2 linked regions of the Homo sapiens genome follow. The protein of the gene in region 1 purifies or fractionates together with the protein of each later gene. This does not show direct contact. Each region holds a gene or a part of one and is shown on either strand. Other genes may lie near its edges.

Region 1 (3,653 bases):
AATGACATACCACAAACTTGGGGGCTTAACACAACAGAAACATATTCTCTCACAGTTCTGGAGGCCAGAAGTCCAAAGTCAGTACCACCGGGCTGAATGGAAGCAGTCAGCAGGCAGTGCTCCCTTGCAAGCCTCCAGGAGAGAACGTGTTTCTCATTTCTTCCAGCTTCTGGGGCTGCTGGCATTCCTTGGCTTGGGGCGGCCATCACCAGTCTCTGCCTCTGTGCTCACATTGACTCTCCTCCTCTTTGTGCCTTCTCAATTCTGTCGGTGCCAAATCTCCGTCTGCTTTCCTCTTATAAAGATATGTGTGACGGCATTTAGGGCCCAACCTAATCCAGGATAACTCTGCTCTCTCAGGAGGCTTAACTGCACACCTGCATAGACTCATTTTCCAAATAAGGTAGTATTTACAGGTTCCAGGGCTATGAATCTGATGCCATTGGGCACCATTATTCAGCCTCCTATGCCTCAGAACCATCCTGTGATGAAGGCCTTATTATCTTCCTCATACAGGGAGTCAGGATCAGAGAGGGTAAGTACCCCAGGCCACACAGATAATATGTAATGGCATCAGGTTTTGAACTCAGGGCTGACTCCAAAGCCCATGCTTGTTTTCTGTGCCCTGCCATATCCCTACTAAGTGCCAAGTGGGTGGGTGATGCCTGCTGTGACCACAAGAGGTTCAGACAAGAAAGCAATCAATGGGAATTAGCATTCATTCATGAGAGCTAGCAGGTGGCCAAGCCCAGACAAGGGCAGTCTCCATTCCTCCTTGACTACTGTCTTCCCACCCTCACCATCAAGGAAGTTCTTCCTGGGTCTAACCTAAGCCCCACGTGGGGTATGGATAGGAGCTCTGCTGCCTTTCCCTTGGACGCCCCTCTCCCCAGCCCCATTTTCCTGATGAGTGTTTGTTTCTCCACAGGATATGGGTTGCTTTTCCTGTCATTAGTCATCACACCTGTCATCCGGGCTAAACTCTCCAAGCTGGTGAGAGAGACAGAGCAGGGTGAGTGTCAGAACCCACCTGTGTCTGGTTCCTCATGTCCAGTGCTGCCCGAAACGGGCTGATGGGCAGCCATGGCTGGGGGAACAGCTTGCCTTCCCCCCTCTCACCCTGGAGAAGTAAGTGGCCAAAACAAACACATTTCTGTGAAATTGCCCACAATGGGCAGAGGATCATGCCACCTTGGATTTTCAAACCGCAGAGTTGGGATTTGCAGTCAGCAGAGCACAATTATGTTCTTTCTAGATAACCAGAGCAGAGGATTTACTCTCTGCAGACCTCAGCTTTTCCGTCTGTAAGATGGGTGTGGTGATGCCAGAGTTCCCTGTTTCTCTGGGGTCAGCGTGTACAAGCCCAGAAGTGAACAACCTTGTGACATGGGTTTCATTTTCCACAGTTGACAGATAAAGAAACAGAGACCCAGGGGGTTACATTGGCTCACCCAAGGTTACTCAGTAAATGGTGGAGCTAGGATGCAAACCTACGTCTGTGTTTAAAAGCAGCTGGTCTCAGGATCTGGGTTTTAGTCCGAGCCCTGCCACAGGCCTGTTTCTTCATCTGTGATGTGGGTGGTTTGCTTTTGATGACATCACAGACCCCTCTAGATGTGACAGAATTTAATCTCAACTTCTGTTGGGTTGTTGCACATTTTGTAAACTGTGGGTTCTCCTGGTATATCTATAAAGAACAGCTTCTCCAGCCTCTGGGTCTTTATGCCCCAGTCTGGAAACATTCATCTTTTTCCATCTGTCCTGGAATGAGGATCTGATGATGACAGAGACTCTGGTGCCATACAGAGCCCACTGTGGGTTCTGGTGTCCCCAGAATCCATGTGTCTTCATTCATTCACCTAAACTTTTTTTCCCAGCACTTTCTCTGTGCCCAGAGATGTCAAGAGAAACAGGAGAAAAGAACAGCCCTTACTAACTAGCTACTTCCAGGGGACCAGGCCCAGTGATGGGTGATTTCCATGTGAACTTAATGTTGCTCACAATCTAGGAAATAGGTATTATCCTTATTTAGCAGAAGGAGGAACAGGAACCCAAAGGATAAGAAGCTATTCAGTGGTGACACCGCTATGAATATTGGAACTGATCAGACCAGCAGTTAATCCCAAACAGGAGATGATTCCAAAGAGGATAAACCAGAAAAAAGCCATTTCCATCAAGCTTTCATCAGACAATATCACATGTACTTTTTTTTTCTTTTATGTGCTGGGTTCTGTCAGATCACATGTACTTTTAATGTGGATTTAATAGCAGCCATTTGTTTAGTAGCCCCTCTGTGCCAGCTACTGTCCACATATGACCTTACTGAATCCTTGTCACAGTACATGATGTAGCAGGATTTACTGGTGAGGAAGGGGAGACATAGGTTAAGTGACTACTCCCGGTCACACAGCTGTGAGGTGGTGGTGCCAGAGTTGGAATATGGCCCTTTCGGACTCCAGAGTATGGTATTTATTTCTTCACAGGTGCTCTCTTTTCTGCTGTGGCCTGTGTGAATAGCCTGGCCATGCTGACGGCCTCCGGCATCTTCAACTCACTCTACCCAGCCACTCTGAACTTTATGAAGGGGTTCCCCTTCCTCCTGGGAGCTGGCCTCCTGCTCATCCCGGCTGTTCTGATTGGGTAATGCAGGGCCCTGAACCCATGCTCATAATGGAGCCCTTTCTCTTAAAAGTTTCCTCTTCTCCTCCCAACCAGAAATGGCAGCTTCATTCCTGGAATCCTTACCCTCTGGGTGTCTTGTCCCAGGTTGCCCCTCTCCTTGCAGATGGCTGCCTAATCCTCCAGGAGCCATTTTCCAAGGGCGAGATGGCGAGCTAGGTGGAGGAAGGATCAGGCTAACATTGCTGCTTGGCAAGGCTGTGTTCTCTCTCCCAGTTCCCCTATTTCCCTCCATTCCCATTTTATAGATGGAACTATGGCAGCAGAACTGTGTTAAAGGGAAGGCCAGGAAGCTTTGTCAGCTAGTTGTGGCTGGGCCACAGGCTAGCTTGACCCGCTGACTTTTTCCTGTATGATATTAAGAATTATATTTCATGGCCGGGCGTGGAGGCTCTTGCCTGTAATCCCGATCCTGTGGGAGGCTGAGGCAGGAGGACCACTTGAGCCCGGGAATTCAAGATCAGCCTGGGCAACATAGCAAGACCTTGTCTGTATAAAAAATTTAAAAAATCACCCAGGCATGGTGGTATGCACTGGTAGTCCCAGCTACTAAGGAGGCTGAGGCAGGAGGATCACTTGAGCCCAGGAGTTCAAGGGTACAGTGAGCTATGATTATGTCACTGCCCTCCAGCCTGGACAACAGAGCAAGACCCTGTCTCTTAAAAAAAAAAAAGTTATTTTCCAGAGCCATGTCCCTGGATATTGTCCTCCAGCTCTCAGCTTCTCAGCTTGGGGAAGGAGGAGGTTCAGGAGAGCTACCTGGACCAGCCCACCCCAGTAAATCCTGTGTCACTTCTCCAGACAGGCCTTGAGGGTTCCCCACATGAAATCCAAACTCTCTCTCTGGTCTCTCACAGGATGCTGGAAAAGGCTGATCCTCACCTCGAGTTCCAGCAGTTTCCCCAGAGCCCCTGATCTGCCTGGACCAGAAGACAGAGGGCAAGAGGAGCAAAGTGAACACCAAGCAACTGGAG
Region 2 (3,653 bases), on another chromosome or scaffold:
TTTATTTCAAATTTTTAGTCATTTCTGTCTTTTATGGCCATAGTGCTTGACTATTATTTTATTTATTTATTTATTTATTTATTTATTTATTTATTTATTTGAGACAGGATCTCTTTCACCTAGGCTGGAAGTGCAGTGGCAGGATCTTGGCTCACTGCAGCGTTGACATCCTGGGTTCAAGTGATTCTCCCACCTCAACCCCCTGAGTAGCTGGGACTACAGGTGCATGCCACCACACGCAGCTGATTTTTGTATTTTTTTTGTAGAGACAGGGTCTCACCATGTTGCCGAGGCTTGTCTCCAACTCCTGCGATTAGGCAATCTGTCCACCTCCTACTCCCAAAGTGCTAGGATTATAGGCGTATCCCAGGCTGCCCATGTAATTCTTTTTTAAAATTAATAATAAGCTGGATTTAAAGATTTCAAATCTGTTAGAAAAACCAATAAAAGAGTATTGATAAAGAATAGTGCTTTATTTACTGATATTTACTTACTGTCTTTGGACTTCTACATGGTTTTTCCTACCTTACTGTTTTCATTTATAACTCTATCCTTTGTATATTAAATTGTTGTTGTAGTGGCTATGGCTTTATTCTGTCATTTTATAATAACCTCTTTCTCTTTTTTTCTATTTTTCTTAGTTGTTATACATAAATCTTCATGTTTTAGCAGTATAACTTTTTTTAGTACAACTGTACTAGCTAATTTGGGAATATTGTATGAAATTTTTTCCTTTGTTTTAAAAATTACTTTGAAGCCTTCCATGATCACTTCTATGTGATTAATATTCAGTGGCCTTTAGAGGAAGACAACTCTGAAGCTTTATGTTTATGTATTTCATGAATAAAAACTTTCTTATTATTTCCTATTTGCAGGTACAGATGAGGGGTATCTAACTGAGCCTGGAAGTTGGAGGAGGGGAGTCATTCCTAGCAGAGGAAATAGCACACGTTGTTAGTATTCCATGTAAAATAAATTTTATACTGAAGATGATTGGAGCCATTAGAGCTTTTTGAAAGAGAGTAATATGATCAAATTGATATTTAGTAACATTGCCTTGACAGTTGGTAGGAAGAATTAGAGGGTATTGAGACTGAAGCAAAGAGAGCAAAGTTTAAAAAATGATGATTCTCTGTTTTGAAGCAGTAGTGGACATAGACAGAAGGTTGCTTGCATTGAGTTAGACAGTAGTGAAAGAGCGTATAGATTGAAAAGGTAAAAATTACCAAGGCATGGTAATCTTTTATATAATGGAGAGAGAGAAATGTGTGATGCCTCCCAGGTTTCTGGCTTGGGAAACTAGGTGGATCACTAAGAGAAGAAATAAAAGAGGAGGAAATGTTTTGGGGGAAAATGAGTAGTCATGTGTGTATATTGTTTGAGACGGAGTCTCTGTTGCCAGGCTGGAGTACAGTGGCACAATCTCGGCTCACTGCAACCTCCGCCTCCCAGGTTCAAGTGATTTTCCCGCCTCAGCCTCCTGAGTACCTGGGATCACAGGCGCGTGCCACCACACCTGGCTAATTTTTTGTATTTTTAATAGAGACGGGGTTTCACCATGTTGGCCAGCCTAGTCTCGAACTCCTGACCTAAGGTGATCTGCCCGCCTCGGCCTCCCAAAGTACTGAGATAGCAGGCGTGAGCCACCACACCCAGCAGAGTAGTCATTATATTAAGATTTATGTGTGACATCCAAGTGGAACTGACCAGTAGGTGTTTGAAAATGATGGTTTGGCACTTAAGAGGGAAGTCTGGAATTTCAAATTTAGGAGTATCAGTTTATAAATAATATTTGAAACCATAGAATTGGATGAAATGGGCCAGGAAGAGTGTGTGTATAGAGTGAGAATATCAGGACTGGAAAAGGAACTGTGGGAAACAACATTAAAGAAAAAGGCTGCTGGGCAGACTGAGGTTAAAGATACAGGAGAGAAAGGTAAAACTCGTTAGAGGAAGGTCCTTGAGAAAACTGAAGTTTCAGTGGCATAAGTATATGAACAGGATTTCAATCTGAGAAAGGACACATTACCTTCTGACAGAGGAAGGACAAAGGAAAAACCGGGTTTGAATGTGACAAATTTGACAGAAGGGAGCGACAAGTTGTGGGCAGTTTGGTCTGTGGCCTCTGCTTTCTTGCGAAGATAAGAAACAAGCTTGTTAGTAGGAATAATTAAGTGATAAAAGAAGTAGGGGGTGGCAAGTTTGAGGAGAGCAGTGGATCACTTTGGAGAAGTGGAGGAGAAATTGTCTTGGAACACTTAAGAGTCTTAGCAGGAAGAGTGGTTGAAATAATGGTGGATTGTGAGAGCTAGGTTGGATTCCCAAAGAAGGAAAGCCAATAGTTTGGATTGACTGGATGATGATGGGAAGGTTAAAGGCTAGCAGCACCTATTTCATCAAAGAGCAGTGGGGTTGGGGAGTGAGAGAGCTAGAAGGATAGGAGTTGGGACAATGGTGGGAATATTGCATTTCAGATTGCCCAGCACTAGAGGATGATGAAGTCCAGGGAATGGGTGGTAGAAGAGTAAAGGGAAAGAAGTTCATTTGAGTTTAGGTGGTCAGAATTAGGGAATTGGATAGATTCCTTTTCTCTCTTTTTAAATGATGCAGAATCAGTAAGGGTATAAATAATTTAAAAGTGCAAGTAGTCTTCCTAGGCTATGTAGTTTAAGTTTCCTGTTACCCATTCAGGCCTAATAGAAATTGGCTGGCAGAGAAAAGCAAAGGTTTCTTGTGATAGAGTTCCTCAGTATCCAGGTGTTTTGCTTTGTTAACTGGCTTAGGGAGACCCCTAGTGAAAGAGATGCCTTCTACTTACTGTGACAGGATTTGCCATTTAATCAGATATTTAGGGACTGTGACTAATGTCATTGGCTCTCCTGGTTGGGTTAACACCTCATTTGCACGACCTTATGACATTGAAGATGAGGGCTGGATAATCTTTACGAGCTTACTTGGGATCTGTTTTGGTTTAGTATTTTATAATGTGGTTTCTTCCTCTTGACATTGTGTTCTTTCTCCCATAAGCGTAATATAATATATTCATGCTTTATATATTGAAAGCTATAAACTGAAATAAATGATTACCTGTGCTTTGGTGACAGAAAAAATAAAAGACATATTCTCTAACTTATAAGCCAAAAAGGAAGACATATTTCAAAATTTGATTTATTTTTCTTTTTTCCTTTATGTAAGCATAGCTGAACATTTTCAACCATGTATGAAGTAGAAGGTTTTGCTGTTACTGTTATAATTTAACAGAAATTTATGAGTCTCCTAAAAAAGCACAGCAGGAACACAGAAATAATTGAGAAATTGCCTTTAGTCTCATGAAGTTAACTCAAGGTTGAATAAAATGTTGCCTTCCCACTAGGCTTGGAACTTTGCATCCTTAGACTCTAATGCAACATGCCATATTAAATATTTCATTTTACAGATGAGGAAACTGGTATAGACAGGTTTAGTAATTTGCATAAGGTAGTAAAGCTGGAAAATGGTGGAAATGGTGGAAATGGTATGTGAGTCCATGTGAGTCCATCTCTAACTCCTCTCCCATTTTCCATTATATCATGCTGCACATGCCTTTACAACTTTCTTGTTTTTGTTATTGTTCCCATTTGTTTACCTTGCTTCATTATTTGTTACTATTGGTT

Evidence for each region.
Region 2: the proteins of SLC46A1 (region 1) and MON2 purify together in Homo sapiens (affinity purification with mass spectrometry; one large-scale study listed by BioGRID and IntAct). This does not show direct contact.

Annotation. Positions count from the first base shown.
Region 1 is NC_000017.11:28,399,597-28,403,249, reverse strand, and holds part of SLC46A1 (proton-coupled folate transporter), read left to right. Parts: exon of another isoform or gene 1-928; coding exon 929-1,012; exon of another isoform or gene 1,013-2,483; coding exon 2,484-2,640; exon of another isoform or gene 2,641-3,536; coding exon 3,537-3,594; coding exon of another isoform or gene 3,595-3,653.
Region 2 is NC_000012.12:62,469,826-62,473,478, forward strand, and holds part of MON2 (protein MON2 homolog), read left to right. Parts: intron 1-875; exon of another isoform or gene 876-953; intron 954-3,653. UniProt on the Homo sapiens protein: Plays a role in regulating membrane trafficking of cargo proteins. Together with ATP9A and DOP1B, regulates SNX3 retromer-mediated endosomal sorting of WLS away from lysosomal degradation.